Homo sapiens: one gene and its partner. The protein of the gene in region 1 purifies or fractionates together with the protein of each later gene. This does not show direct contact. Each region holds a gene or a part of one and is shown on either strand. Other genes may lie near its edges. The genes, in order: HPSE and DNAJA4.

Region 1 (15,165 bases):
TATGGGATGATGGAAAAGTCAAATTACAGACGAACATGGATGGAAAACATTACTGCTACATTTAAAAAATAAAATCTGCCACAACCATCATGTACTCATCACCCAGCTTCAATAATTTTTCACTCAGAGTCAATCTTGTTTTATCCATATCTGTACCTACTCCCTTTCTCCCTAAGAAATTATGTTGAAGCCAATCCTAAACATCATATCAGTTTACCTATAAATACTTCAGCAGATATCTCTGAAAGACAAGCATACTTGAATAGCCACAATGCCAATTTTCTATCCTTAAAAAGTTAACAATAACTTGTTTAATATCATTCAATATCCAGTCCATGTTTCTTTGATTGCCTCATAAATGGTTTTTAATAAGGTTTATTTGTTTGGGTTGGTACTGAAATAGGGTTATTTCTAACATTCTTGAATAGGTTCTTTAGTATGAGTTTTTCTTCAGAAGTGAAAACACATTTCATTTCTGTTTTAAATCTTGAGTATCAGACCGAGGATAAAGATTTGTCTCTACTAGCATACCTAATGCTTTTCCACCTGGTTGCAAATGAAATAAGTTAATGAGACTCATGTTTCTTATCAATAGCACTTTCCATTTTCTATTCATTTAATAAAATAATGACAAAGTCTAATACAATATTCAAACAATTGGACAATCATGCCTATCTTAGTCTGTTTTATGCTGCTGTAACAGCATACCCGAGATTGGGTAATTTATAATGAATAGAAATTGATTTCTCACAATTCTGGAGGTTGAGTAATCCAAGATTGAGAAGCCCACATCTGGCGAGCGCATTTTTTTGCTGCATCGTCCTATGGAGGGAGGTAGAAGGAGAAGGCGAGAGAATGATTAAAGGGAGCTATATTTGTTCTTTTCTAACAAGTCCACTCCTACAATAACAGCATTAATCGATTAATAGTCTAATCATCTCTTAAAGGTCCCACCTCCTAATAGTTACAATGGCTATTAAATTTCAACATGTGCTTTTTGGAGGACACATTCAAACCATAACAATGCCTGAATCAACAATTCAATTAAAGTTGTAAAAGCAATTGTCTATCCAGTTCTTTGGTCACTCCAACATGCACCTTGGCTGAATCTGGATGCAAAGGGTAGCCATTACAAGGCCTTAGTCACCAGTGATAAAGGAGATCTTTCACAAGGAGTGTTTCCTACACAGTCCACTTCGCTTATTGACTCCTTATTTGGAGTCCACAAAACAGAAAGTATTTTTGCCCTACTTCGAAGCACATGTTTCTTGAGAGAGCCAAAATACTGACATCTGGCCAAAAGCCAAGCACATAGCAGAAGTGTAGTCTACATATAATATCAGGATGAGACACTTTCTCCCAATCTACCCACCCCAACCACTTCTTTATGTTCAACGCACTTGGTAGAGTTCTTCCTTCTGTGCTGTGATATTATGATATATATTGGTTTTCAATCATGGTTCCTGGCTCATAACTCTGATAGCCCCTCTTAGAGTCTTTTGTCATAATGTTGGGTGCGTTAGGCCTCAGGGGCAGGCCTCTGACCTTCTCCTGCCCTCCTTTCACCTGACCCAAGGAAGGACCCTAATGTTTCATAATATGGTTTGGGTCTATGTCCCCACCCAAATCTCAGGTCAGATTGTAATCCCCAGTGTTGGAGGTAGTGGCTGGTGGGAGGTGATTGGATCACCGGGGCACTTTCTTATGAGTGGGTTATCATGATCCCCTCAGTGCTGTTCTCATGAAAGTGAGTGAGTTCTCCTGAGATCTTGTTATTTAAAAGTCTATATCCCTTCACCAGTCTCTCTCTTCCTCCTACTCTGGCCATGTGAAGTGCCTCGCTCCCTCTTTGCCTTCTGCCATGATGGTAAGTTCCCTGAGTCCTCCCCAGAAGCTGATGTTGCTATGCTTCCTGTACAGCCTACAGAACCATGAGACAATTAAACCTCATTTCTTTATAAATTACTGAGTCTCAGGTATTTCTTTTTCCTTTTATTTTCTTTTTCATTCTTAGGTATTTCTTTATAGCAGAGTGAGAATGGACTAATACATTCTGCCTTTCTGATTGTGGGTGTTAAGACCCTCTCCAGAGAGACTCCTGTGGTATACCTTGGGGGAGGGAATGCTGACATCATAAAGTTTCCATAAAAACCCAAGAGGACTGCGTTCAGGGAGCTTTCAGATAGCTAAATGTGTGAGGGTTCCTGGAGGTGGCACTCAGGGAGGGCATGGAAGCTCTGACCCCTTCACGTCTCTTCACCTGTATCCTTTGTAATATCCTTTATAATAAACCAATAACACTTTAAGATTGCTAAATATTGTCTTCATGAGAAGTTGATAAAGAATTTTGGTGGTTGATCTCTTTCTAGCTGCAGTTTAGCGTATGCTGAGGCCAGATATTTTCAAGCAAAAGTAAAATACCTGAGAAAATGCCTGGCCAGAGGACAATCAGATTTTGGCTGGCTCAAGTGACAAGCAAGTGTTTATAAGCTAGATGGGAGAGGAAGGGTTGAATAAACCAATAAATATAAGTAAGTGTTTTCCTGAGTCCTGTGAGCCACTTCAGCAAATTAGTCAAATCCAAAAAGGGGGCCATGGAAGCCCCAACTTGAAGCATGTTGGTAAGAAGTTTCAGAGGCCCAGACCTGTGACTAGTGTGGAAGGGGGAGGCAGTCTTGGGGACTGAGCTCTCAACTTGTGGAATCTGACACTATCTCCGGGTAGATAGTGTCAGAACTGAATTAAAGAACACCCAGCTGGTGTCTGCTGCTTGGTGTGTGGGGGAAAAACCACACACACCTGTGGTCACAGAAGTGGTCTTATGTTGATGATTGTTGTGGTTTGAGAGTAGAGGAAAAAGCATGGTTAGAGAGAGAGTTTTCCATACACACATATGCCCTGTGTTTATACTGTATATACCATTTACAGAGCCTGAGAGCAACATAAACAATGTCCCCCTCAATTCACTTGATTATGCTTTTTTTGGAATGAGTATAATTAACATCTTGCAGGGCCTTCATATGCCAGAGACAGGTGACCAAACTCGGGCAGTCAGCTCTTTAGGGACTTTTGAATAACCCCTCAGCCTACAGGATAATAATCTATCTGGTTAGAGTGTGTGGTCACTGAGTTTATTAGTTCTTGCTCTAGGGATGCTTCCTGCTTTCTCTGTCATCCTCTAGTTCACTTGCTGATTCCCAGTACCCAGTTGCCCACAGGCACAGAGAGAAATAAATATTAATTGTGTGTGTATAAGCTTATGTGTATACATGTGTATGTAGGTATATATATATATATATATATACATAAAAGCATAATTTAAAAAATAGAGACTCTATATCTATAGAGAAATGCACATCCATGTTCTATGAACAGGCATCTGTATAGCAGAGGAAACAGAACATTTATAGTTTACCCTTTTAAAATATGAATCTGAGGCAGAGTATGATGGCTCACACCTGTAATCCTAGTACTTTGGGAAGCCAAGGTGGGTGGATTGCTTGAGTCCAGGAGTTCAAGACCAGCCTGGGCAACATGGCAAGACCATGTCTCTACAAAAAACACAAAAATTAGCCAGGTATGGTGGCATATGCCTGTGGTTGCAGCTACTCTGGAGGCTGTGGCAGGAGGATCATTTCCTCTCGAGAGGTGGAGGTTGCAGTGAGCTGAGATCATGACACTGTATTCCAGCCTGGGTGACAAAGTAAGAGCCTGTCTCAAATAAATAAATAATTTAATTTAATTTAATTAAACATTAATCTGATCCTATCACAGCACCCACCCCAGGCTTGAAGCCCTTTCAATGGCTTCTCATTGCTCTAAAAATATTGCAAGGCTCAGCAATGTTTGTTCCTACATCCTCAGCTGTCCCCTTGCTCTCTCTAATCCAGACACCCCAGCCTTCTCTCAGTCCCCTCACTATCCATGCTCTCACACACCACAGGACCTTTCCACAGGCCATTCCCCTAGCCTTGAATGATTTCCCTCTACCTAGTTGTCTACTCATCTTTCAGATCTTAAGTGTCACATCCTCAATGGCCCCTCCCCCCAAATCGAAATTCTACCTCATACACACGTAAAGCACCATGATCACCTTTGGAGCACCTACCACACTTGCAATTTCACTTTTGCGTGATATTTTTAAATTCATTATTATTATTATTATTATTATTATTATTATTATTATTATTATTTTGAAACAGAGTCTGTCTCTGTTGCCTAGGCTGGAGTGCAATGGCGCAATCTTGGGTCACTGCAAACTCTGCCTCTCGGGCTCAAGCAATACTCCTGACTTAGCCTCCTGAGTAGCTGGGACCACAGGCACATGCCACCATGCCAGCTAATTTTTTGTATTTTGGGAAGATACGGGGTTTCACTATGTTGCTAACGCTGGTCTTGAACTCTTGGAGTCAAGTGATCCACTTGCCTCAGCAGTGAGATTACAGGCGTGAGCCACCACCATCCTGTGATTTTTAAAATACCTTCTACTTCCCCAGTAAGACTTCAGAGCACAGGAACAATCCCTGCTTGCTGCTTACAGTTGCCTAGCTCAGTGCTTGGTACATAGTAGGTGCCCAATAACTACTTGAATGAATAGATGAATAAACGAATATGTGAAAGCACATTGTAGAACACCATGCATGCAATAGATGTTAACTTCCTTCCTTTCACCATTCAGCAAAAATTTTCTCTTAATTTCTCCTTGCTTTGAAATACAGTTTGATTGGCAAATAATTAAAAGCAAAACTTAACTTTAGAAAGTCATAACCCAATAACTCAAAACAACACATTTGTAACTATTTATTTGCCCGGAGATAACTACAAATGCCTAAAAGTTTGCCCACATTCAGAGATTTCTACATTAGAAAAGTCTTAATTTTCTAAACAGACAAGTGATAAGATTATCATTTTCTGAAAATATCCTGAAATCAGTCTGTTGTTTTACAAGTGTTTGTAATTGTTGACCAGGTAAACCTTGTGTGAATCCCTAAAAACCCAATGCCAGTACTGAAAATCAATCCACAGACCACATGGAAATGAGATCACATGATAATTATTTTTTGTATTTTTATGCATTTATTTTTTATTTATTAATATTTTTTGAGACAGAGTCTCACATTGTTGTCCAGGCTGGAGTGCAGTGGCATGATCATGGCTCACTGCAGTCTCTATCTCCTGGGCTCAAGCAAGCTTCCCACCTTAGCCTGTGAAGTAGCTGGTACTACAAGTGCATGCCACCACATCCAGCTAATTAAAAAACATTTTTTTTTTTTTTAGAGATGGGATCTTGCTATGTTGCCCTGGCTGGTTTCAAACTCCTGGGCCCAAGCGATTCTCCCTCCTCAGCCTCCCAAAGCACTGGGATTACAGGTGTGAGCCACTGCACCCAGCCCCATAATTAATAAAGCGTTCACATAAACTTTCTAGTTCATTTAAAGTTTTTTATTTCTAAATCATTTTCATCACATAATTTGTGAGTCCCTAAATCTGCGTGAGGTAGTGGAAAAACTCTGGGCTTGGAATCAGAAAGCTGTAAATCTACTTTACAAGGTTATTGCAAAGATTAAGTGGGGGTAATAATTTTTTAAAAAATAATCTCTCATCTGTTAAACACATACCTCACATTGTAGATGGAGCTAGCTGTGTTACATTATTGTCAATTAATTCTTTAAAAAAAGACTATGGGCCAGGCATGGTGGCTCATGCCTATAATCCCAGCACTTTGGGAAGCATAAGTGGGTGGATCTCTGAGCTCAGCAATTTGAGACCAGCCTGGGCAACATGGAGGAACCCCATCTCTACCAAAAATGCAAAAAATTAACAGGGCATGGTGGGGCACACCTGTGGTCCCAGCTACTTGGGAGGCTGAGGTGGGAGGATTGCTTGAGTGTGGAGGTGGAGGTTTCAGTGAGCCAAGATCACATCACTGTATTCCAACCTGGGTGACAGAGTGAGACCCTGTTTCAAAAAAAAAAAATCTTATGAAATATGTATTATTACCCCTACTATATAGATGAAGAAATTGAGGCTCTTGGAAATTGACGATCTGGCCCAAGATTGTACATCCCATCAAGCTGCAGGGCTAAGATGTATGAAAAAGGGCTCTAGCTAGGATGTATGTAGCTGTAACTTGCTATAAAAATTAAGGTGTCTTATTATAAAATATCTCTGAAATGATAGTTCCTATTAATATTCCTATATGTTCCTCCTTCCTATGTATCCATATCATACATCCTTATCAGACATTGTAAATCAAACCAAATTAGAAGCAGGAGCAAGATCTCAGCCAACAGATCATCATGTGTGCAAATTGCTTCTCTGCCCCCTCGTTTTTGTTTTCCCAGTTTCTTTTCTTTTTCTTTTTTTTCTTTTTTTTTTGACAGGGTCTTGCTCTGTCTCCCATTGTGCAGCGGCATGATCTTGGCTCACTGCAATCTCTGCCTCCCATGCAATTCTTATGCATCAGCCTCCTGAGTAGCTTGGATTATAGGTCTGCGCCACCACTCCTGGCTACACCATGTTGCCCAGGCTGGTCTTGAACTCTTGGGCTCTAGTGATCCACCCGCCTTGGCCTCCCAAAGTGCTGGGATTACAGGTGTGAGCCATCACACCCGGCCCCCCGTTTCCATATTAGTAACTCACATGTAGACCACAAGGATGCACTATTTAGAAAACTTGCAATGGTCCACTTTTCAAATCACCCAAACATGTTAAAGAAATTGGTATGACTGGGCATGGCACAGTGGCTCATGCCTGCAATCCTAGCATTTTGTGAGGCTGAGACGGGCAGATCACGAGGTCAGGAGATTGAGACCATCCTGACAGACATGGTGAAATCCCATCTCTACTAAAAATACAAAACAATTAGCCGGGGGTGATGGCAGGCCCCTGTAGTCCCAGCTACTCGGGAGGCTGAGGCAGGAGAATGGCGTGAATCCAGGAGGCAGAGCTTGCAGTGAGCCGAGATGGTGCCACTGCACTCCAGCCTGGGCGACAGAGCGAGACTCCGTCTCAAAAAAAAAAAAAAAGAAAGAAATTGGTATGACTGTTGACTCACAACAGGAGTCAGGGGCATGGGGTGGGGTGTAAGATTAATGTCATGACAAATGTGGAAAAGAAACTTCTGTTTTTCCAACTCCACGTCTGCTACCATATTATTACACTCTTCTGGTAGTGTGGTGTTTATGTGTGAATTTTTTTTCATATGTATACAGTAATTGTAGGATATGAACCTGATTCTAGTTGCAAAACTCACTATGAGCTTAGCTTTTAAGTTGCTTAAGAATAGGTAGATCTATGCAAATAATGATAATTATTATTATTATTTTAAGAGAGGGTCTCACTTTGTCACCCAGGCTGGAGTGCAGTGGTGTGATTAAGGGTCACTGCAACCTCCACCTCCCAGGCTCAAATAAACCTCCCACCTCAGCCTCCCCAGTAGCTGGAACCACAGGCACGGGCCACCACGCCTGGCTAATTTTTTGTATTTTTTGTAGAGATGGGGTTTCATCATGTTGCCCAGGCTGTTCTTGAATTCCTCGGCTCAAGCAATCCTCCCACCTTGGCCTCCCAAAATGCTGGCATCACAGGCATGATGGCATCACTGGCATCACATACCATGCCTGGCCTGATTTATGCAAATTAGATATGCATTTCAAAATAATCTATTTTTATTTGTTGCCTTATTGGTGGTACAATCTCAAGTGGAAAAATCTAAGGGTTTTGGTGTTATTTGCTTACTCAACCAATATTTATTAGACTCTTACTAAGCACCAACATGATCACATGCCTGAGCTATGGCTAGCATAGCGTGTGAGACAAACTTAATCTCTGTTTTGGTGGAGCATATAATCTAGTAGATGAAGCCAATGTTGAGCAACATCACAATACTAACAAATTGAGGATGCTACGAGAGTGTCTAACAAATTGAGGATGCTACGAGAGTGTCTAACAAATTGAGGATGCTATGAGAGTGTGTCATGGAGAGCTGCCTGGAGATTGAGAGAAAGCTTCCTTGAGGGAAGTTACATTTCAGCTGAAACACACTGCCATCTGCTCGAGGTTTTGTAACTGCATTCACATCCCGATTCTGACACTTCACATCCCGATTCTGACACTTCACCCAGTTACTGTCTCAGAGCTTGGGTCCGCATGTGTAAAACAAGGACAGTATGCACTTGGCAGGGTTGTGAGAAGGGAAGAGAACACAAGTAAAGCACCTGTATCAGGCATACAGTAGGCACTAAGCGTGCGATGCTTGCTATGATTATACATCAGTGTAAGCATCAAGGAAAAGCTGAAGAAAAGTCTGACCAACAGCGAAAGATAAATGCGCAGAGGAGAAATTTGGCAAAGGCTCCAAATTCAGGGGCAGTCCGTACTCTACACTTTGTATGGGGGCTTCAGGTCCTGAGTTCCAGACATTGGAGCAACTAACCCTTTAAGATTGCTAAATATTGTCTTAATGAGAAGTTGATAAAGAATTTTGGGTGGTTGATCTCTTTCCAGCTGCAGTTTAGCGTATGCTGAGGCCAGATTTTTTCAAGCAAAAGTAAAATACCTGAGAAACTGCCTGGCCAGAGGACAATCAGATTTTGGCTGGCTCAAGTGACAAGCAAGTGTTTATAAGCTAGATGGGAGAGGAAGGGATGAATACTCCATTGGAGGTTTTACTCGAGGGTCAGAGGGATACCCGGCGCCATCAGAATGGGATCTGGGAGTCGGAAACGCTGGGTTCCCACGAGAGCGCGCAGAACACGTGCGTCAGGAAGCCTGGTCCGGGATGCCCAGCGCTGCTCCCCGGGCGCTCCTCCCCGGGCGCTCCTCCCCAGGCCTCCCGGGCGCTTGGATCCCGGCCATCTCCGCACCCTTCAAGTGGGTGTGGGTGATTTCGTAAGTGAACGTGACCGCCACCGAGGGGAAAGCGAGCAAGGAAGTAGGAGAGAGCCGGGCAGGCGGGGCGGGGTTGGATTGGGAGCAGTGGGAGGGATGCAGAAGAGGAGTGGGAGGGATGGAGGGCGCAGTGGGAGGGGTGAGGAGGCGTAACGGGGCGGAGGAAAGGAGAAAAGGGCGCTGGGGCTCGGCGGGAGGAAGTGCTAGAGCTCTCGACTCTCCGCTGCGCGGCAGCTGGCGGGGGGAGCAGCCAGGTGAGCCCAAGATGCTGCTGCGCTCGAAGCCTGCGCTGCCGCCGCCGCTGATGCTGCTGCTCCTGGGGCCGCTGGGTCCCCTCTCCCCTGGCGCCCTGCCCCGACCTGCGCAAGCACAGGACGTCGTGGACCTGGACTTCTTCACCCAGGAGCCGCTGCACCTGGTGAGCCCCTCGTTCCTGTCCGTCACCATTGACGCCAACCTGGCCACGGACCCGCGGTTCCTCATCCTCCTGGGGTAAGCGCCAGCCTCCTGGTCCTGTCCCCTTTCCTGTCCTCCTGACACCTATGTCTGCCCCGCCAGCCGCTCTCCTTCTTTTGCGCGGAAACAACTTCACACCGGAACCTCCCCGCCTGTCTCTCCCCACCCCACTTCCCGCCTCTCATTCTCCCTCTCCCTCCCTTACTCTCAGACCCCAAACTGCTTTTTGGGGGGTATCATTTAAAAAATAGATTTAGGGGTTACAAGTGCAGTTCTGTTCCATGGGTATATTGCATTGTGGTGGCATCTGGGCTCTTAGTGTAACTGTCACCCGAATGTTGTACATTGTATCTAATAGGTAATTTCTCATCCCTCATCCCTCTCCCACCCTCCCACCTTTTGGAGTCTCCAGTGTCTACTATTCCACTAAGTCCATGTGTACACATTGTTTAGCGCCCACTCTAAATGAGCCTTTTTGTTTCATTCATTCTGTAAGTGTTGAATAGGCACCACCTAAGGTCAGGTATAAGTGGAAATTTGAAAAAGAAACTGCCCACTTGCCCCAGTACTTCCCTAGCCAAGAGGAGGGAAACCAGGCAGGTGCACCTGAAGGCCTGTGAGTGCTTGATTTGCTGTGCAGTGTAGGACAAGTAAGATTGTGCATAGCCTTCTGTATTTAAGACTGTGTTAGGAAGATTTCTCTTTCTTTTCTTTTCTTTTTCTTTTTTCTTTTCTTTTTTTTTTTTTAGGCAGATGAAAAGGGCGTCACAGAACAGGAATAAAAATCTAAATATTCAATAAATGAGACCTAGGAGACTACTGCAGTGACTTACAAAGTCCTAATAAAAAGATGTCTCTCCAAAATGGGGCTGCAAAATGTGGTGCTGCCTTATCAGCTCTAAGTTTTTTCCTTACCTGAGAAAGAAGGAACCTGATGCAGGTTCAGGGCTCCTGCCCCATGAATGCAGGCTGACTCCAAGATGGGGAGCTACAGGGACAATCCCAGGTCTTCTAGGCCTCTTATTTAGGCCCTGGGAGCCTCCAGAGATGGCCACATCTTGACCAGCCCAGATAGAGGGAAAGATCACCATTATCTCACCTCTGTGTCAAATACCTAGATGCTGTCCTCCCTGAGCCCACACTATAGTTGCCAGCGCTAATTTAATGGGTAGTGTACTGGTTAAGAGATGGACAGACCATCCTGGCTTGACTCTCAGCTCTGGCAAAGATGAGTGACTTGGTTTTTCCATATCTCTTGGCCACACCAACCTTGATTTCTTCAGCTGTAGAATGGAATTTCTCAAGCTTGCCTCAAGGATTATTGCCCGAGGATTTGATGATATGGTAAGAGCTTCTCAGTGTTTGACCCATAGTAAGTGTTTGACGTTTCAAACGAATTGTTTCTTTCTAGGACATGGTGAGCATTTGGTAGCCATTCACCGGTTTTCTGTTTCTTTGGATCATAGTTAACCTCTCCTTTTCCTTCTGGCACTACAATTTTCTGGTGGGGAAGAATCCTTACTTTCTGCCCTTCCCCTTAAGGATAGGAAGCTGATACTAGGCAGCAACTAGTTGGGGGATAGGAAGATTGTTCCAGAGAAATGCTGAACCATAGGGCTCCAGATCACAGGACCCCAGTCTTAGCTTGCTGGGGTGTGGGGTGGGGGGGGGCGGTTACTGAACATGGGTATGAAGTAGATGTCCATTTACTGAAATGTGAGGACCTGAGGCCTCTTCTATTGCTGTAGCCAGCATATTCCCCAACCTCTCCCCAAGAAAGGACAGATGGGGGTTCCCCCCTGGAGTAACAGGTCCAAAAGAAAAAACATACAGTGGGACTTCCAGGATCTGGGCCTGATCACCCAGCAGTCAAGCTCCCCGCAATTGACTAACACCCCCCTAACACGTAGAAATTCCAATCTGCAATTTAGTGAGGATGATACCTTTATTCTTCTTAAATACATCTCTTCATTTCCCAGAGCACCCTTTTTTCCCCTCCTCTGCACCTTTTTGTTAAAGACTGGAGTATAATGAAATACCAAGAGAGCATAACATGTGATACATAAAACTTTTTTTCTGGTTTACAAAACAGTTCATTCTTGTCCATACGTGCTTCTCTCCAAGGCTGGCTGCTGTCTGTTCCAGCCCGCTTCGCTTGGAGAGGCCATCTGCCATACCTGCTCCCCAGACGCATCGACAAGCACACCCAGAGTGTTATCTGCTAAGACCTAAAAGAGGGAGGAACCCCCTCTCCTCATCTAAGACCTAGCTTCTAAATTAGAGTGTGAGGGTCCATCTCCCCAGGAGGGGCACAGGGCCCAAACAGCCCAGCCATCTCAGAAGACAACACTAAGCTTTGTAGGGGTCCACAGTAGAGGAGAGTAAGACGCCTGTTGTTTAATTTATTACAGTTCCTCAAAAGTGAAGATGTGTGGGCGGGATGGCAAGAGCTGAGCAGACGAAAGCTGAAGGAATAAGGAAAGAGAGGAGGACACAAACAGCTGACACTTCCTCAGTTCTTGTCATTTGCCTGGCCCTGTTCTAAGCACCTTCTAGGTATTAATCCATTTAGTCTTGGCTACAACACTGTGAGTGACTAGTTTTGTCACCCCCATTTTAAAAATGAAGAAAGTGAGGCTCAGGGAGGTTAAGTAACTTGGCCACAGTTTGAAACTAGACTCTGATCACATGAGATAATAGTGCCCATAAAAAGGGAAAGCAGATTATATTTTTTAAAGGAAAGAGAGTAGGATATGGTAGAAAAAGATTGTTTGGAAAGGAATTGAGAGATTGATATAATGAAAAGAAGCATTCACATGAGAGTAACAGTATCAGGGCCCAAACCTTCATCTAAGGTACTTCAAAGAGGCCTAAGCAAACTTAGTCACTGGCGTGGTTCTAGTCTCCATGATGGCAAATACATTGTGTACAGCCCAACTCCACACAAAACTTAAATACCAATGATAGAGCAATCTAAAATTTGAAAGAAAAAATCTTTCAATTTGTCGTCTTCCCAGAGGGACTTAATCAAGAAACCAATCAAAATACTTCCTAAGCCTAACTGTGTGCAGAACTCCAAAGAGAGCCCAGCCCTAAATCAACACTGTCCAATGGAAATATAATATAATGTGGGCCTCATATGCAAGGTCATATGTAATTTTAAATTTTCTAGTAGCCATATTAAAAAGGTAAAAAGAAACAAGTGAAATTAATTTTAATAATTTTATTTAGTTCAATAGATCCAAAATGTTTTCTCAGCATGTAATCAATATAAAAATATTAATGAGGTATTTATTATTCCTTTTCTCAAACCAAGTCTATTCTATAATCTGGCGTGTATTATTTACAGCACTTCTCAGACTATATTTCTTTCTTTCTTTTTTTTTTCCGAGACAATTTTGCTCTTGTCACCCAAGCTAGAGTACAATGGCGTTACCTCGGCTCACTGCAACCTCCGCCTCCCGGGTTCAAGTTATTCTCCTGCCTCAGTCTCCCAAGTAGCTGGGACTAGAGGCATGCACCACCACGCCTGGCTAATTGTGTATTTTTAGTAGAGACAGGGTTTCACCATGTTGGCCAGGCTAATCTCAAACTCCTGAGCTCAGGTGATATGCCCACCTCGGCCTCCCAAAGTGTTGGGATTACAGGCGTGAGCCACTGCACCCGGCCTCAGATTAACTATATTTCAAGCGTTCAGTAGCCACATGTAGCTAGTGCTATGGTAGTGGACAGTACAGATCTGCATTTCAATTAAGACACGTATACAAGCATAGTTCACTAATGCACGGTAAAAAAAAGTATAGTGCTGAGTCGGTGGTAGAAATCCTAAATACTGCAGAGCAAAAGTGGTACGAACAGCAATCTCAGTGATAATGCAACCATGCTTGCTTTTCATTGCAATTTGCTTATTTTCCTTCAGCAAAGTTCATCCATTTTTGCCAATTCAATAAATATTTACTGATAAAAACTTTCAATATTAGATTCTTGCATCTTCATAGACAGAGTTGCTTTTCACATTTAGAAAATTACTTATCAATGTTAAACACACGTTTTGATAACCAGTGTTGGAAAGAGGTGCAGACTCCCCATGTGCCTATTGATGGCAGAAATATTCACAGCCAAAGGGAAACAAAGGGCTGGGGACAATCACACACCTCATGTCTCCTAACTCCTGGGAAGTGCTGTCCCTCTGATTGAGCTCTTATTATTGCCTTCCCCACTAACCCTGTCCACTGTGCCCTGGAGCCCTTTGCAGGGTTACCTGCTCTGTCCTCCTCACAGAATATCTCCTCTACCTCCTTGTCCAAGCTACAACTTGGCTATTCTCTGATGACACTGTCTTCCCTGTAGCCCTTTTGAGTAATGGCTGCATATTCTCCCATAGTCCAGTTCTTTTCCTGTTCTCCAGTCTGGCTTCTGGATGACAGCCCACTAGTTTGAACTCCATACTGCTATAGTTCAAGTCCCTTTTGACTTGTTACCTTGGGCAAATTACCTCCTTTTGTTCAGGTTCCTTGTTTGTAAAATGACGATAATAATGCCATTTGCTTCAGTGGGTTATTTTGAAATTGAGTGAAAGAAGGCGGGTAGCTTCCCTACACGCTCAGTGTAGACTAGCCTGATGTGCATTACGGGTGATGCCATGACTCAGTGTGTTTTCCTCATCTCCACATCTGGCTCTCATCCAGTGCTCCTGCTTACGGCACTCTGTCCCCCTCTTACTTACTCCCCCTTATTAACTGAAGACTGGCACTGATCTCACAGTTTCCTCTCCACTTCCTAGTCTCACCATCATCCTAGATGACTTCAAGTCACCTAGATAAACTGTCTCAGTTTCTTCACTCACATTTTTTTATAACAGATAATGTTACACTCAAGTTGTAACAGAACCAGCTTATCCAGCTCATGAAATGTATGCATTTCATCTCAACTCTGTATTCAGTGACATCCTGTGGGTATCTGGAAATCAGCCATGGTGAGAATATTTACCATGGAAATTGGCAAATACTAAAAAGCAGAGCACCTTTTTTTCTGAGAGCCAGACCATAGCTCTTCTACTCCATAGCACCCATCATAACAATTTTTAAATACCTCCACTGAACAGCTTCTTCCTCTCTCTACTTCTTCCATATCTGATTTGAGCTTCTTAATTTATCATGTGAACCACTCTTGTAATAATAACCCCAAATCCCTGTTCCATTGTTCTTCCTGCTAAAATACTAAACCTGGTTTAGTCCAACCATATTTTCTCTCTTTGGAATCTACAGGGTGGCCCAAAAACCTGGAAATGGAAAAATATTACTTATTAATTTTAATGTATATTAATAAGCCATTTTAATGCTTCATTTCCAGTCTCAGTGGCCACCCTGTATAGCTGGGCTATTGAGCTCTTGCGGGAGGAGGGAGTGGACAGTCTCCCAGCCACACAGACTGATGTTGCACCAAACATTTTTTAGCTTCCAGACTTCCCTGGCCCTTAGTGTTACCCTTAACTCTCCATTTCTCTGCCTTTCACATTCTCTACTTTTTAAAAATCTCTGACTCCACCTTCACCTTATCATTCTTAGCACATGACCATACTTCTGCTTCCCAAAGAAAATGAGCAATTACTTCCTTTTCCTTTTCCTCCTGTCATCAAATCTGCAGACATGTCATGCCTAAGTCCAGCTTTCCTCCTTTCTCTGATCTCAGTCTGCTTCTTCCATTTCTGCCCTGAATCCCGTCCCCTCCCCAACCCCCAAGGACTTCGCTCTATCAGTCACCTCTTCCCTCTCCTGTATCTTCAACTCCTCCCATTTTACTGGCTTCTTCCTCAAG
Region 2 (15,309 bases), on another chromosome or scaffold:
GTTTTTTTTGCAAGATGCATGGGTGGTAGGTAGTGGGTCACCAAGATAGTCCCTTTTAGGGGCAATGATGTGGGGTATATTCTTGGCTATTACCCTGTTGAGATGAGTTTGGTCTTTTGGTCAATTTCATTGTAACTTTTAGTTTGAATAATAGACTTTCAAGTTCAAAAATCAGAACATAGCAAACCATGCAGAAAATTTTAGAACACAGAGGGAAACCTACCAAGTACACATTATCCTAACCACTCTGTGCTTCTTTCCAAGCTTTCCCCAGTATGATCATACATGGCCATCCTGATACATAGACATTTTGTTTTCTTGTTTCCACTTAATATTTTATTATAAGTACTTTTCCCAAGTTGTTACGTAGTCTTCAAAGCCATTTTCCCCTCAGCTGTATAGTAATCCTGTTAAGGTTCTGTGGCAAATGATCATGGTCTGAAAGGCAAGCTCATCATAGCACTCGTCTCCCACTGGGAGAAGGGGGTCCGGGCCGGGAGCTGAATTAGACTTTGGAGTGCTGGGACCCTAGAGGATGGACTCCCTACTGGTAGTTGGAACCCCCATCCCATGTGAGATCTGGCCTCTGACTGAATGTCCCAAGCAACTGGGTACTCCTTTTCCATTCTTAGATCATTCTATTAAGTCTAAATGACATGTGAGTATCCAGGGTATTTGGTGAGTGTTTCCGGTGGACGTTCCCATGAAGTTATTTACCTAGTCCTGACCTGCAGATAGACGCAGAAACTGTCTAGGGGCAGCCTGGCCTAGTTGCTTTCTGATCTGTACCAGGCACCCAATCCTTACACTCTACCTCATGTTTTCTGCTGAGGAAAGGGATAGTAGTGAATGGTACTTACTTCTTCGCAGAAATGGTATGAGAATTAACATATCAAAAGATCTAGCTGCCTTATATATGATGCTGATGTCTTTTTAAGACTTTTCTAAATTGTAGTTTTTTAGCTATTTATTAGCTATTATTATTGGTTACTTATTAGATTTCAATCAGGGATCTGTAGAACAAGGGAATTAATGCCTCAAATTCCCTTGTTCTCTCTCTCAAATTCCTTATTTCATGGCACTTTTTTTCCCTGAATATTTTTTGGAGCCAGCTGCATTATAGGATCTGTTTATCTATATATCCATATTTGTCTCTCCGACTAAACTGTAGCCTCTGGAGGGCCAAGATCCTACCTCATTTATTTATTTCTGAGTTCCCAGAATCGAGCCATTCATCTAACAGGTATTTACCAAGTGCCTTCTACATGCCAGGCATGGTTCCAGGCTCAGTTAGACAGCAGTGGACAAAACCCCCCATCTTCATGGAGCTTATGTTGCAGTGGGGGCTACAGCATAAGCAGTAGATGATGCAGCTTGTTAGAAGGTGGTTCATGATATGGAGAAATATGCAGCAGTTGTGGGGGCTGGGAGGGTCTGAGGTGGGTTTGCAGTGTTAAAGCTGGATCACCAGGAGGCATCCCTGAGAAGGTGGTCTGTGAGCTAAGGCTGGAAAGAGATGAGTCGGGAGGCCGCACCAGGCTGAGGTGCCTCTGAGGCCCAGACTGCAGAGTTGAGGAACAGCAGGGAGCCTGCTGAAACTGGCATAGAATTGGGGTGGGGACACACAGGAGGAGAGGAAAGTACAGGTGCCAAGTTGGGCTTATAGATGAAAGTTAGGACTGGCTTTTACTCCCAGTGACGTGGGCCACCTTGTAGAGGTTTGAGCAGAGGATCGACCCAATTAGTGGGCTCGAGTGGAGAACACACTGAAAGCTGGGGTGAGGAGGGCACATGGAAGACCACGGAGGAGGCCACTGCAGTGGTCCAGGCCTGAGATGGTGCCTTCAGCCAGAGTGGATGTGGTGTGGTAAGAAGGAACAGATCTTGCATGTTTTCGCATTCTGATTTTATTTTAAAAATGTCCATATACCTGCAGAAAACATGAGTGATACAATGAACACCTATGTATTCTTCACCTAGCTTTACCAGTTATAAATAAGTTGTCACATTTGTTTTATCTATTATTATTATTACTGTTGGCTAAAGATTTTGGGAGGAAGCTACCTATAGCATAACCTTTCAGCCCTAAGTGCTGCGTGTTTCTCTTGGGCACAAGGACATCCTTGTACATAACCATAGTAAAGTTATCAAATTCAAGAAGTTTAACATTGGGAACAAAGATTCACATTTCTCCCATTGTTCCAATAATGTCCTTTGTAGCCATTTTTTTTTTTCTCCCCTGTGCAGGATCTGATCCAGGATCACACATTGTATTCGTTTTTTTCTATCTTTTAATTTTAGAGTATCTCTCAATTTGGGTTTTCTGATTCTTTTCGTACAATTGGGTTCCAGTGGTAACTTTTTGGCAGGAATGCTACACATGGGATATTGTGTCTGTCTTAGGGTACTGGAGATGCAAATGTGAAGGTAGCATCAGTGGGATTTGTTGACAGGTGAGATTGGCATTGCCAATAACTGTGATATGGGGAAGACTATGGGTGGGGCGGGGCTTTTGGGGGAGGATCAGGAGTATAGGTTTGTATCCAATGTCTGGCACGTGGTTAGATGCTCACAGATGCCTGTAGTTGAATTTCATTCTAGTAAACTAGTGAAATGATTCCCATGAGGAGGTGAGCCAGTGGTAATGCCCAGAGTCCTGGCTCTATCTGGTTAGAGGTTCACCCCTGGCACTGTCTCATGGTATCCTAGCTGGTCTCGACTTCCTGTCTGGTGCAGCCGGATTAGTGAGAAACTTTCCCTCTCTACTGGCTTCTCTCCCTTATTCTTATCGTGTCCCTACCACCAGTCCCTTAATATGTTTGCCCTGTGTTTCCCACTTTACCAAAGGAGTAGGTAGACAGGCAAGTCAGATTCCAGGTAGAGGATGTATAGACTGGCTAGTTCAAGGGTTTGGGGGCAGAATACCTCTATTACTTTGTATGTTTATATGGCAGGTTTGCTTAACAAAACAACTGAAACTTCTCTAAAAATCTCTCTCTCTCTCTCTTTTAAAGTTTAAACTCATATCCCAGGCATATGAAGTGCTTTCAGATCCAAAGAAAAGGGATGTTTATGACCAAGGCGGAGAGCAGGCAATTAAAGAAGGAGGCTCAGGCAGCCCCAGCTTCTCTTCACCCATGGACATCTTTGACATGTTCTTTGGTGGTGGTGGACGGATGGCTAGAGAGAGAAGAGGTAAATGCTTTTAAAGAAACATAAATAAGTTGTATGGTTTCCACAATTATACGTGTTGTTGGAATCAGGATAGATCATGCTTTAAAAGGATATGATTGGGCCAGGCGCGGTGGTTCATGTCTGTAATTTCAGCACTTTGGGAGGCCAAGGTGGGAGAATTGTTTTAGGCCAGGATTTCAAGACCAACCGGGGCAACATAGTGATACTCCCCATCTCAAAAAAAATAAAAATAAAAAACTTAGCCAGGCATGGTGACTCATGCCTGTAGTCTCCGCTACTTCTTGAGATGCTGAGGCTGGAGGAAAACTTGAGCCCAGGAAGTCGAGGCTGCAGTGAGCTCTCCAGCCTGCACGGCAGGGTGAGACCCTGTCTCAAACAAACAAACAAACAAACAAAAAACCCCACCAGGTACAATTGCCATGTTTTGAGATCATTAACTTTAAAGAGTTTATCACTTGTCTAGTGCTCAGGCTACCTGGAAACTCTTGGTAAATTTAGTAATTATCTGACACCCTCCAATACCATATGAAGTAGCGAATGGAGTGGTGGATAGAAAAGAGGAAGGTGAAGTTCATCGTGCCTTCTTTTCCTCTGTTGTTGGGGTCAGGCACCAGAGTGTGCTGAGGGATGTAGATGACGCCGCCTGTGGTTGTCAGTGATCCTTTACCGAGAGTGTTCCTCTCTCCTCTTGCCCACCCTCCCTTTGTGGCCCTCCATGTTCCCTGACCTGGGCGTGGGCTGCAGGCTCTCTAATTCTAGGTGGGTACTCTTGCCATGTTCAGTATGGCCTCATTTCCCAGCCTGCTCAGGGGATTTTCTAGGCAACAAAATTCATCTCTTTATGTTTTGAAATCTTTATAAATGACCTGCCTTTCTTTTCAGAATGCATTATGAGTAGTAGCAACTTCATCCCCAGGAGGTGAATGAGGAACTTCTTAGCCCTTAGCTCAATGGCCCCAGGCCACTGTTTTGACTTTCTCGGGATTTGTTCTTCCTAATTTTTCTGCATCTCACCTCTGCCAGGCTACGGGCTGTCACCTCTGTTGTTAGTAGTTGCTAATAGACTAGTTCCCATTCCCCCTGTTTAGTTTACTGTTGTCAGGCTGCTTTGGATCTTGAAACCAGAAAGATAACCAAGCGTATTACAATTCTGGATAAAGTCAGAAGAAATGAGCTCTGCCTTGGGGTTTAAGAAGTGTGGCTTTGGTCAGTGAGAGGCCCCTAGATAAATGAAGCTGCACTTGTTATCACATTGTAATTGACTTTGAGCTTGAAAAAGCTTGGGTGTCAATTCTGTGAACATAGAGTGCTGAAAATCACAAAGTGTTTATTAGGGAAAAATCCTTCCTCTGTCCTTTGAGCATATCGCCTGCTCCTATAATTGATGGTGTGGACATGATAAAACCTTGGGTACTTTGGGAGGCCGAGGTGGGTGGATCACGAGGTCAGGAGATCGAGACCATCCTGGCTAACATGGTGAAACCCCGTCTCTACTAAAAAATACAAAAACTTAGGTGGGCGCGGTGGCAGGCGCCTGTAGTCCCAGCTACTCGGGAGGCTGAGGCAGGAGAATGGCGTGAACCCAGGAGGCGGAGCTTGCAGTGAGCCAAGATCGCACCACTGCACTCCAGCCTGGGGACAGAGCAAGACTCTGTCTCAAAAACAAAACAAAACAAAAAAAACCTTGGGTATTCTCTTGTCCAGCTCCCTCACTGTCTTGAGATGAAAAACTTCATGCCCTTAATTAAGTCATCTCTCAAAGTTGGCAGCCAGTAAACCAGGACAGCTCATCTCAGTGACTGCAGGAGCTCCACGGGCAGCAGGGAGGGTCTTGATGCTGTCAGTCTTGACAGGCTGGCAGGTGCTGGAGCACACCCCCACCCTGTGGACTGAACACCCACTGTCCTGAGTTGCAGAAGCAAGATTTTGGCAGAGGAAAGAATTCCCATTTGGCCACCGGTTACAGAAGGGCTCAGAAAGTAAAGTGCTTTATGCCCAAGGAAGTGAAAGATCCAGAGACTTTGGCTGCCAAACATTTATGTATAGAAAGGACTCCTTTCATGGGGAAACTTAACCAATTTCGTGGGTTAATACTGCCTTTGGTTTCTCAATTAGTACTCTCCTTGTCCTCAGATTTGTTCTCAGAAAATAAAGGTGGAAAGTCTTTTTGTTGGCCTCTATAAATGATTGAATAATTAGCTCATAGCTAGAGAGGGTATTAGCTCTTGTTATTGGCTGAGGGCCAGAAGGATGGGCTGGGGTAATAGAAGCATTGCTTCCTGCAGGGAAGGGAGCGCATGACCCAGCCACAGTCTTGAGTCTCTGGAGACTTCATACAACTAAGGGTCATATGGGTGGTATTTAATACAATGGTATATTTCATTCAACGCCACTAATTTTTTTTCTCCCTTGCTAAGGCAAGAATGTTGTACACCAGTTATCTGTAACTCTTGAAGATCTATATAATGGAGTCACGAAGAAATTGGCCCTCCAGAAAAATGTAATTTGTGAGAAATGTGAAGGTAAAAATTAATTTTTGACTGAACCGCACAGTTCTGATCCCTTAGATTCAGAAACAATGCTTGTTTTATAGTTCAGGGAAAATAAGTTATCTTTTTTCAAATGCAAGGGTCAAGCAGAGATTACAAACAGGTGGCCTGAGGGCCACACTTCTTTGCCTGAATGAATGTTTTCTTTGGGCTGCACCTCTATTTGACATGTTGACAATTATTTCTTTTTATGTTTTTGTATTTTTTATTTTTATTATACTCTAAGTTTTAGGGTGCATGTGCACAACGTGCAGGTTTGTTACATATGTATACAGACAATTATTTTTAAAAATTAAAAATCAGACACTTGACCTCATCTAGGGGTTGGCAGACTTTTTCTGTAAAGAGCCAGATTTTAGGCTTTCCAGGCCATGGAGTCTTTTGTAGCTAGTTCACTCTGCCGTCATAGTACATAAATGAATGGACATGCCTATGTTCCAGTAAAGCTTTATTTACAAAACCAAGCAGTCTGGCCATGGTTTCTTGACCCCTGACTTAAATGTATATATAATTATTGTAATTTTTAAAAAACCTGAGTTTTCAAGAAAAGCCATGTCTGGTGACCCCAGCCTCACATTGTCCCACAGAGAGAATTGGCTGAGCTGGGTAGCTGCCACTATTGACAGAGCTTGTGTTGTCTAGATCGCCACAGCCCCAGCCTCCTCATTCATCTGTGGGCCTATGCGAGTTCCACCTGGGGTGGAAGAAAACACATTTGATGAAGCTAAAGTAATAAATTTGGATTGGTGCAGCCAAAATCACAAACGTTTGAGGTCAGATGTTAACATCTGGATGTTGTCTGCTTGGCTGGACTCCTCCAGACTCTTCTGCATTGTTTTTTATTATTGTAAATAGAATTCTAAGCCCATTGTCCAATGTGAGGGTTCCCTACCCTTCTGCCATGGCGCCCAGCAGGGACACTGGTAAGGGAAGAGCATGGCCCTCATTCCTGCCTCCCCTGACCCTGCAGGTGTTGGTGGGAAGAAGGGATCGGTGGAGAAGTGCCCGCTGTGCAAGGGGCGGGGGATGCAGATCCACATCCAGCAGATCGGGCCGGGCATGGTACAGCAGATCCAGACCGTGTGCATCGAGTGCAAGGGCCAGGGTGAGCGCATCAACCCCAAGGACCGCTGCGAGAGCTGCAGCGGGGCCAAGGTGATCCGTGAGAAGAAGATTATCGAGGTACATGTTGAAAAAGGTGAGGCTGCGCAGAGCTGGTGCTCCACACGGGCTGGAAATGCTGTCTGGGTGCTAATCGTGAGATACACAGACTAGATGTCAGGGAAGTGAGCTGTATCACAACATGTATTGGGTGTGCCATGAATTCCTCTTGTTTCCCAGTCTTCTCTTCACCCTTCCTGGCCTTATTTCCATTCCATGTCACCTGCCAAAGTGTTCTTGCTGAGGTTTACTTCCTTGAGATCACAGACAGCCTCTTTATGAGGTTTTCTAACGCTCTGAAAGTCTTACCTGGCCTTGGTTTGGGTTAGTTGCCATCTCCTGACATTCTCAAGCCATTCCTCTAGAATCTTTCGGAGTGTCTTCCTGGTCGCTTCTGATGCTCATTGGCCATAAGGGCTTGTGTAAGTGTTTGTGGCTGCATGTTCCCTTTCTCCACATTTCCCCATGTGCTGCATCAGATTCCCCCAAATACAGCACCTTCTCCTGCTATTCATTTTGCCTGATGCCATCATTTTAAGGCCTTTTTCCATTTTAGCTGTCCTCCAAGTATTCCGATGATTCTGTGGCTTTCCAATCCAGTAAATATATCCTAGATCAGAGATGAGACCAAAAGTAAAAGAATCAACAGCCAAACCGACACAGGTGTTATTAAAGGACTTACTGTTTAAACATGCCTAAACCCTGTGCCTTGAGTGTGCAAGCTGACTTATTAGAAAAGGACAGGGCTGGCTGACCTGTCCCTATCAGTCCCAAGTCATGCACCCTGTGCCCCGGGAAGTGGGCGGTGACCCTATGCTGGTGGTGTGGCATCACAGGCCCTGGGCAGGGAGTGCTGTGTAAACCTGGGATGTAGAGCCGCATTCCCCCACTCCCTGTGCATGCTGGGCTTGGCCCCACATTATGCCAAGGGAAGCGGGACCTCTTCTGTCATTGGCCATCCTAGCCACCCCTCCCTGCCTTGTGCCTGCATGAGGTTGGGAGACTTGATGAATAAAGAATCCCTGAAGGACTCTGTTCCTTCTTCAAAAGCTTTAAGGAAGCATGGTTTGTATGAGAAATGGCTAATCAGAAAGGGATGATGTTTCATAGGTATGAAAGATGGGCAAAAGATACTATTTCATGGAGAAGGAGATCAGGAGCCTGAGCTGGAGCCTGGTGATGTCATAATTGTGCTTGATCAGAAGGATCATAGTGTCTTTCAGAGACGAGGCCATGACTTGATCATGAAAATGAAAATTCAGCTTTCTGAAGCTCTTTGTGGCTTCAAGAAGACGATAAAAACATTGGACAATCGAATTCTTGTTATTACATCCAAAGCAGGTAATGTTTCAAAGTGTGTTTCCATTGATGTTCTGTATGTTTGGCATAATAATTCTGGCAAGTTAGCCTGATTTTTTTATTGCTACATAATATTTTACATATTGATGGGGTGCATGTGATACTTTGTCCCTTGCATAAAATGGGTAATGATCAAGCCACGTGTTTAGGGCATCTGTCGCCTTGAGTATTTATTTCTTTGTGTTGGGAATAGTTCCCCTGATTTCACATTTAAGGTCAAATTCTGTTACACAAATTAGTATGATGTGATTTTCTCTAAATTTAAAACTGTCCCTAATAACTCTGGATAATTTATAAAGTTCTTGTATATTCTCCTAGAAAAAATATTCAGTTGGGGGGAAAGTCTCAAATAAGAATCTTGGGGCTCTGAATTTTAGATGAATTCTGGCAATTAAACTTAAGTTTTTAAAAATTTATTTTTGTATAAGAAAACAGCTTAATAGGTGGTGTTTTTCTATCAAGTGGTGATTTGTGCTGATTCATCCACATGTTCCTGTAGCCTCTGTTGTTCATTACATGAGTTACATTTTAAAATAGAATTTTCCTGTAAGAAAGACTTTGCCTATCAGTTTATCCTTGGAGGTTTCCACAGGAATTGCTGGTCTGCACACACCCATGGGAGCCAGAGGGAGATGCCTCTAGGCCGAAAGGGTTCCTGAGGCCTGAGCTCAGCCCCCAACCCCCCTGTAGACACCAGGGCACTCATCTCCCAGGAGGGTTGGTGTGTTCACTGTAGTTGAGGGTTTGTGTGGGCACCAGAGCACCTGCCTAGAAGGGGCTGAGAAGGGAGAGAGGCCAGGCCAGGGACCTTGACTTGAAGCTGCTTCTGAATAGCACTAAGGTCAGCTGTGCATAGCAAAGAATGTCTGGATGGGTGTGGTGGCGGCTACGCCACCGAAGCAGCCTGGGCCCCAGCACCAGCCATTTGCAGTGTTGCTGTAGTCCCCTCACTGGCCGTGGGGCTGGGATTACCTTTTTCTATGGCCATTTGAGGTTTGGTGCAAAAGGGGTAGGTTCAGGGCAGGCAGGGAGGTAACCACCAATAAGCCTGCCCCCAGGGCAGTGGCAGCTGGAGATAAGACTCAAGTCTGGTGGGGTGACTGAGGCCTGGACTTCTGTTCCCTCCGTGTCCCTCTCCCCCTTCCCCTCCTTGTCTGCTTTTCTCTTCCCAGCCTTGTGCTCTTTTTCTCTTTCCTCTCTTGGATTCTTTCAGGTTCCTCCTTTCCTGGGGATAGTAGGAAGCAGAATTATATATCCAAGCCTTGATCGGTTTGTGGAGTTTTAAAATAAACTTATTTGGAAACAATTTCAAGCTTACAAGAAGTTGTAAATATAAAAATAGTCCGAGGCCCATCCATATATGATTTGTCTGATGTTAACATTTTACCCCATTTGGTTTGTCATTTGATCTGTGTCTGTTTTTATTTATTTTTAAAATTTGTTCATTTATTTTTTGAGACAGGGGTCTTGCTCTGTCGCCCAGGCTGGAGTGCAGTGGCGTGATCTCAGCTCGCTGTAACCTCCACCTCAGCCTCCCGAGTAGCTGGGACAGCCACATGCCACCACGCCCATCTAATGTTTGTACTTTTTGTAGAGACGGGGTTTCGCCATGTTGCCCAGACTTGTGTGTGTTTTTATACATATACTTAATCCAGGATTGGGGGAAGCACTGCAGTATAATGCAAAATTTGCATGAAAATTTAAAATAAAACACCTTCCCTTAGGCTTCCATAGACCTCCCAAGGCACCCATTTCCTCCCTCAAGGAGGAGTTTGAGGATCACAGTTTACACGAAGCTCCAGACCACTGGTTGTGAGCTCAACACCCTGGCATTGTGTCCAAGATGCCCTTACGTGGTCACAGCCCAGATCCTAGCCCTCCTGAGCCGGGGCTGGGAAGCATCTGTGTGTAACTTCTTTGGGAAAGCCTGTCCTGTCCAGGGGTGGACTATTTGAGGTCCTGGGCCCCACCAAGAGCCAGCGTTCCTTGCTGTCTCAGCTGACCCCAGCCTAGGGAGCCGGGAGCCAAATGGAGTGAGGGTGGTGGAGAAAGAGCCCCAGAGGGAAGGAAGTGGCAAATCCCAAGAAATCCATTTCCTTCTTTATTATAAGGAAGGGTGGAGCATCCAGGAAACCTGCCGTTGGAGAGTTCTTTGGGGATTTGTTTGTCCTTTTTGTTTTGTTTTTGTTTTTACTTTGTTCTCTTTTGCACCCTCTCTTTTCTTCACCCCTCTTTTGTGTTGGCTTATTTCTTGTTTCTCCATTTTCTCTTCTCCCTCTTCTTCCTCTTTTCTGCTGTTGAAATGCCTTCTTCCCCAGAGCCTTTTAGCCTGTTATGAGCATTGCTGAGGATTGGATTAATTAAAAAAGTGATTTTGGAGCCACACAAGGGTGTGATGGCCCTGCCTGCAGGCAGGTATTTACCTGCCGGGAGAGCCTAACTCGTGGTCTTCTTCTCTTACCTGTAGTTTTCCATGCTTGGTCAGTTTCCCAGCTCCCAGCAAGCTAGAAGCAGAAGCATGGGGAGTAGGGCTTGAGAGCAGCAAGAAGCGACACCTGATAGGAATGGGGAGACAGAAAAACCAGTCATATGTAACTTAACGAAGGGGATATGTTCTGAGAGATGCATTGTTTGGCGATGTCGTTGTGGTGTGAACACCATAGAATGTACTCACACAGACCTAGATAGCATAGCCTGCTACACCCTAGGCTGTGTGGCATAGCCTGTTGCTCCTGGGCTAAAACCTGCACAGCAGGTTGCTGTACTGAATACTGTGGGCAGTTGTAGTACGATGCTGAGTATGTGAGTATCTGAACATAGGAAAGGTGCAGTAAAAGTTTGGTGTAATCTTTGCAACCATCTTCATAAATGTTGTTGACTGAAAGGTCACTATGCTGTGCATGACTGTATTTCTTTTTTTTTTGAGACGGAGTCTCGCTCTGTCGCCCAGGCTGGAGTGCAATGGCGTGATCTTGGCTCACTGTACACTCTGCTTCCCGGGTTCACGCCATTCTCCTGCCTCAGCCTCCCAAGTAGCTGGGATTACAGGCACACACCACCATTCCTGGCTAGTTTTTCTATTTTTTTTTTTTTTTTTTTTTTTTAGTAGAGACGGGGTTTCACTATGTTGATCAACCTGGTCTCGAACTCCTGACCTCGTGATCCGCCCGCCTCGGCCTCCCAAAGTGCTGGGATTACAGGCGTGAGCCACCGTGCCTGGCCATGACTGTATTTCAAAAAAAAAGAATAAACAGGAACACAAAAAGCCAGCAGCCTGGAGCAGTTTAGCTAAGGGGTTGCTGTCCTGCACAGTCAGTAGGCTCTGAAGGCCATGTCTGAACCACAGCCCTGCCTGCGAATGAATCTCAAGGATAGTCATTGGCTTACTTTATTTTTAAAACCTCCTCTTTAAAGATTTCCTCTTGAAGAGACAGCTCACTTTCTACATAGTCCCGTATGGAAGTGGACTGCTGAAGAAATTAGTGTTTCCATTCCCCTCCACCGTCTCCCCCATTTTTTCCGAACATTTCTTTCTGTCTTTGTCCATTTTCATCGCTGAGCTGAAGAGCATGCTTTATCAGAAACCCTTTTGTCCCTTTCCTTTTCCATGCTTAGAGGGAAGTTTCTGACTTGGGAGAACGCCTTAGAGTTCTTGGGGTCTGAACTCCTCTGATGCCTTCCAAAGTCACGTAGCTGTAAGACCCAGCGGGTGCCAGCCGGGAGGGTGACTCCAGCTCAGCAGCATGTATGGAAGTGCATTGTGACCATGAAGGAGTCTGCCAGTGGCCAAGCCACCTAGTGAGCTCCCTACCAAGGAACCTGGGTGTCACCTGCAGGTGGCCAAGAGCCAGTTTTTATGCCAGGCAGGGGACTGGTTGGACTCTATTGAGGCTTCTTCCTGTCTGTGGGGAGCACTCCTGTCCCCCTCGTGGTAGGGATACCTGTCACCCCACAAAGAGGCAGGGTGACAGGTGTTGGCCCCATTTTAGGCAGACTTGGGTGTCATGACTTCTAGTTCACTTGTTTTAAACCTACCTGTGATGGCAGCTGCACCATGCTGCCCTCTTGACACACTGCTGGAGCCCAGAGCACAGGCCAGAGTCTCAGCCTGAGCCCCTTCCCCAGGCAGTACCTGACAAGGATACCTGGGATTGGGGCCAGCTTTCCAGTCAGATGCCACGTTTCCTTTGCCCACTGCCACGGGGCACTAGGGCCTGCCGCAGGCTCTCCCATGAGGGAGAACGACCTCTGCAGGCCCCTCTGCCTTCCTCCTTCCTAATTGACCCTTTCTCTGGCAGGTGAGGTGATAAAGCACGGGGACCTGAGATGCGTGCGCGATGAAGGAATGCCCATCTACAAAGCACCCCTGGAAAAAGGGATTCTGATCATACAGTTTTTAGTAAGTTCACTATGTTTCATTGTCATGGACATATTATTAAATGCCTTAATTGGAAGGGGAAAAAACAGCCACCTTTCTTTCCCACCTCACCCTTTACAGGTAATCTTTCCTGAAAAACACTGGCTTTCTCTGGAAAAGCTTCCTCAGCTGGAAGCTTTACTCCCTCCTCGACAGAAAGTGAGGATTACAGATGACATGGATCAGGTGGAGCTGAAGGAGTTTTGTCCCAATGAGCAGAACTGGCGTCAGCACAGGGAGGCCTACGAGGAGGACGAAGACGGGCCCCAGGCTGGAGTGCAGTGCCAGACGGCATGACGTGGTGCGGGGCAGCGTGGCCCCACCGGACTAGCACATGATGAATGTAAAGTTGGCACAATGAAAATGACATCGCTTTAATGGCCTTGTGTTTGGGATGTCCTGTGTATGTGTTCAGCATTCTTAATTGCTGAGTGTCTTTTTGGCTTTTCTTTTGGTTGTAACTTAAGTTATAGCTTAATTTATATTTAAATGTTTTAAGTATAAATCACCTCTAGTCTGCATATGGAATCTGTTCATTTCTATTTTCAGGATATACTTTTGAGATGTCAGTGATTGCACCAATACTTTGTGCTTCTAGTGGCTTTGCCATAATTCAGTGTCACCAATAAGGCACAGCCCAGTTAGCAGCTTAGCCCCCCTAGCAAACCCCAAGGCACAAAGTGGGCATCCTGACTCATCTCTAGGTCTGTGGTTTCTCCCCTCTTCCCTTGGCAGAGTTATTGAGGGCATGATCTCAGGGCTGCTAAGATAACATTTCTGAGGATTCTAGATGATCCTCTTAAAGAATAAAAGCACATCCGTGGATCGGACATGGCTGCATGTGCCTGCTTAACAGGGCCAACTTAGTTCCTACTGTTCTGTGCCCTTCAGTGGATGGAACGTGAGTGTCTGATCATCTCTCTTGGAAGTTTTCTGAACCTTCCAAGCTCTGTGGTGAGGACAAACCAGTGTTTGAATCATATGCTGATAACTGTTTGCCTGTGACCCTCACACCTTGTTCTTCAGGGTTTTAATGATTTTCTGTTGACAACTTTTGCAATGCTTTCCCACCAAAGTGCTTACTTGTAAAGAAAACTAAATCCTTCTGTGTCCCCGGCAGCCTCAGTGCAGCAACAGAAGCCAAGGGAGAATGCTGCTGGTTTGGCCCATGGCACAGCCAGCTTCTCTGACCAGTAATCCGGGGTGACTTGAGGGTCTGCAAAGGCATAGAACTCCCCAGTGTTTTCCACCTCATTCTCCCAGATTGAGCTCCCTTCCAAAGGATCGTTCCTCTCATTGCACAGCCATATTACAAAGGGTTTCCTGCTCAAGTGATGTTTTGGTAAGAACTTCGCTGAGTTCCACTGTGGATTACAGTTTGTATGGACTACTACTGTAAATTATAGCTTGTTTGGAGGGATATTAGTCATTATTTTATTCATGACAGGTAGACTACAATTCGAACTTAGGGTTACCTCAGTCTTTAGCCATTACTGCTTATTTCTTTTCCCCAAGTCACAAAAAACTTGTAAGCTGCTGGGTTAAAGCAGAGGCCACCTGTCAGATCTACCCTACCCTTATTTGGTTACATGGCACCTGAGAGTTTCACTCAGACCAGGGATCTTCCTTAGGAGGGTCAAAGTGCAGATCAGACCATGCAGGTAAGGTGAACCAGCTGCACGGACCAGGTTCCCGCAAAACATTGCCAGCTAGTGAGGCATAATTTGCTCAAAGTATAGAAACAGCCCACCTGTGCCCACTTTGACCATTGGTGAGGATAGATATAAAATCACTTCTTCCAACGAAGCCTAGGTGAAAATCTATTTATAAATGGACCACAACTCTGGGGTGTCGTTTTTGTGCTGTGACTTCCTAATTATTGCTAAAGAACTACTGTTTAGTTGGTAATGGTGTAAAATTACATTCAGCTCCTTCTTGTCATATAAAAGGAATTTGGAGGGTGTCGCTTAAAATTTTATTCCACCTGTACATTTGTCACTTTAAAATTAAAATTGAGCTGGTATGAGAGATAAGTGGCTTTGCTTTTTCCTTTTTTTGAGAGCTCACATAAACAGTGTTAGGTGCCTGCCAGCTTGCCTCTCATTGGTTGACATAATGGAATGAAGTTTCCACCCTCATGGAGCTTTATTTTGGGGGTGGGGGTGAATGCAAACAAAAAGTGGTAACTGCTATGAAGAACAAGAGGAATGGGAATGAGTAGAAGGGAATGGGAAGAAGGCCTCTACCAGGAGCTGGCATCTGGGCAGAATCCTGGATGCAGCTGGGGAGCAGATGTCCGAAGGTCTGGAGGGAAAACATTCCAGGCAGAGGAATGGCAAGGATGATGTGGTTACAGGAGGGTGAGCAAGGCAAGCAGGAGGGAGAAGTGGGGGGCTATGATAAAGAGTGTGAGCTTTATTCTGAGGGCAGTGAGTGGTTTGAGGAAAAGCACATGACCTGACTCATAAGCATATGAAGTAATGATCAATAAAAAACACGCTTCCAAGTGTTCAGCTACTTACATCTTTCTCATTAACATGAGTCTCAAGGGGGCTGATGAAGAGGAAACTCTGAGGTACAGATACTCTGAAATAACTAAGGCAGGGCTACAGTTCTACAGCATGAGGC

What was found.
Region 2: the proteins of HPSE (region 1) and DNAJA4 purify together in Homo sapiens (affinity purification with mass spectrometry; 2 studies listed by BioGRID and IntAct, with this or other methods). This does not show direct contact.

Annotation. Positions count from the first base shown.
Region 1 is NC_000004.12:83,328,775-83,343,939, reverse strand, and holds the start of HPSE (heparanase isoform 1 preproprotein), read left to right. Parts: upstream 1-9,091; 5' UTR 9,092-9,157; coding exon 9,158-9,384; intron 9,385-15,165. UniProt on the Homo sapiens protein: Endoglycosidase that cleaves heparan sulfate proteoglycans (HSPGs) into heparan sulfate side chains and core proteoglycans. Participates in extracellular matrix (ECM) degradation and remodeling.
Region 2 is NC_000015.10:78,267,483-78,282,791, forward strand, and holds the end of DNAJA4 (dnaJ homolog subfamily A member 4), read left to right. Parts: exon of another isoform or gene 1-2,453; intron 2,454-3,014; coding exon 3,015-3,195; intron 3,196-5,612; coding exon 5,613-5,717; intron 5,718-6,175; exon of another isoform or gene 6,176-6,714; coding exon 6,715-6,942; exon of another isoform or gene 6,943-7,618; intron 7,619-8,015; coding exon 8,016-8,246; intron 8,247-10,725; exon of another isoform or gene 10,726-11,318; intron 11,319-12,562; coding exon 12,563-12,663; intron 12,664-12,762; coding exon 12,763-12,978; 3' UTR 12,979-14,709; downstream 14,710-15,309.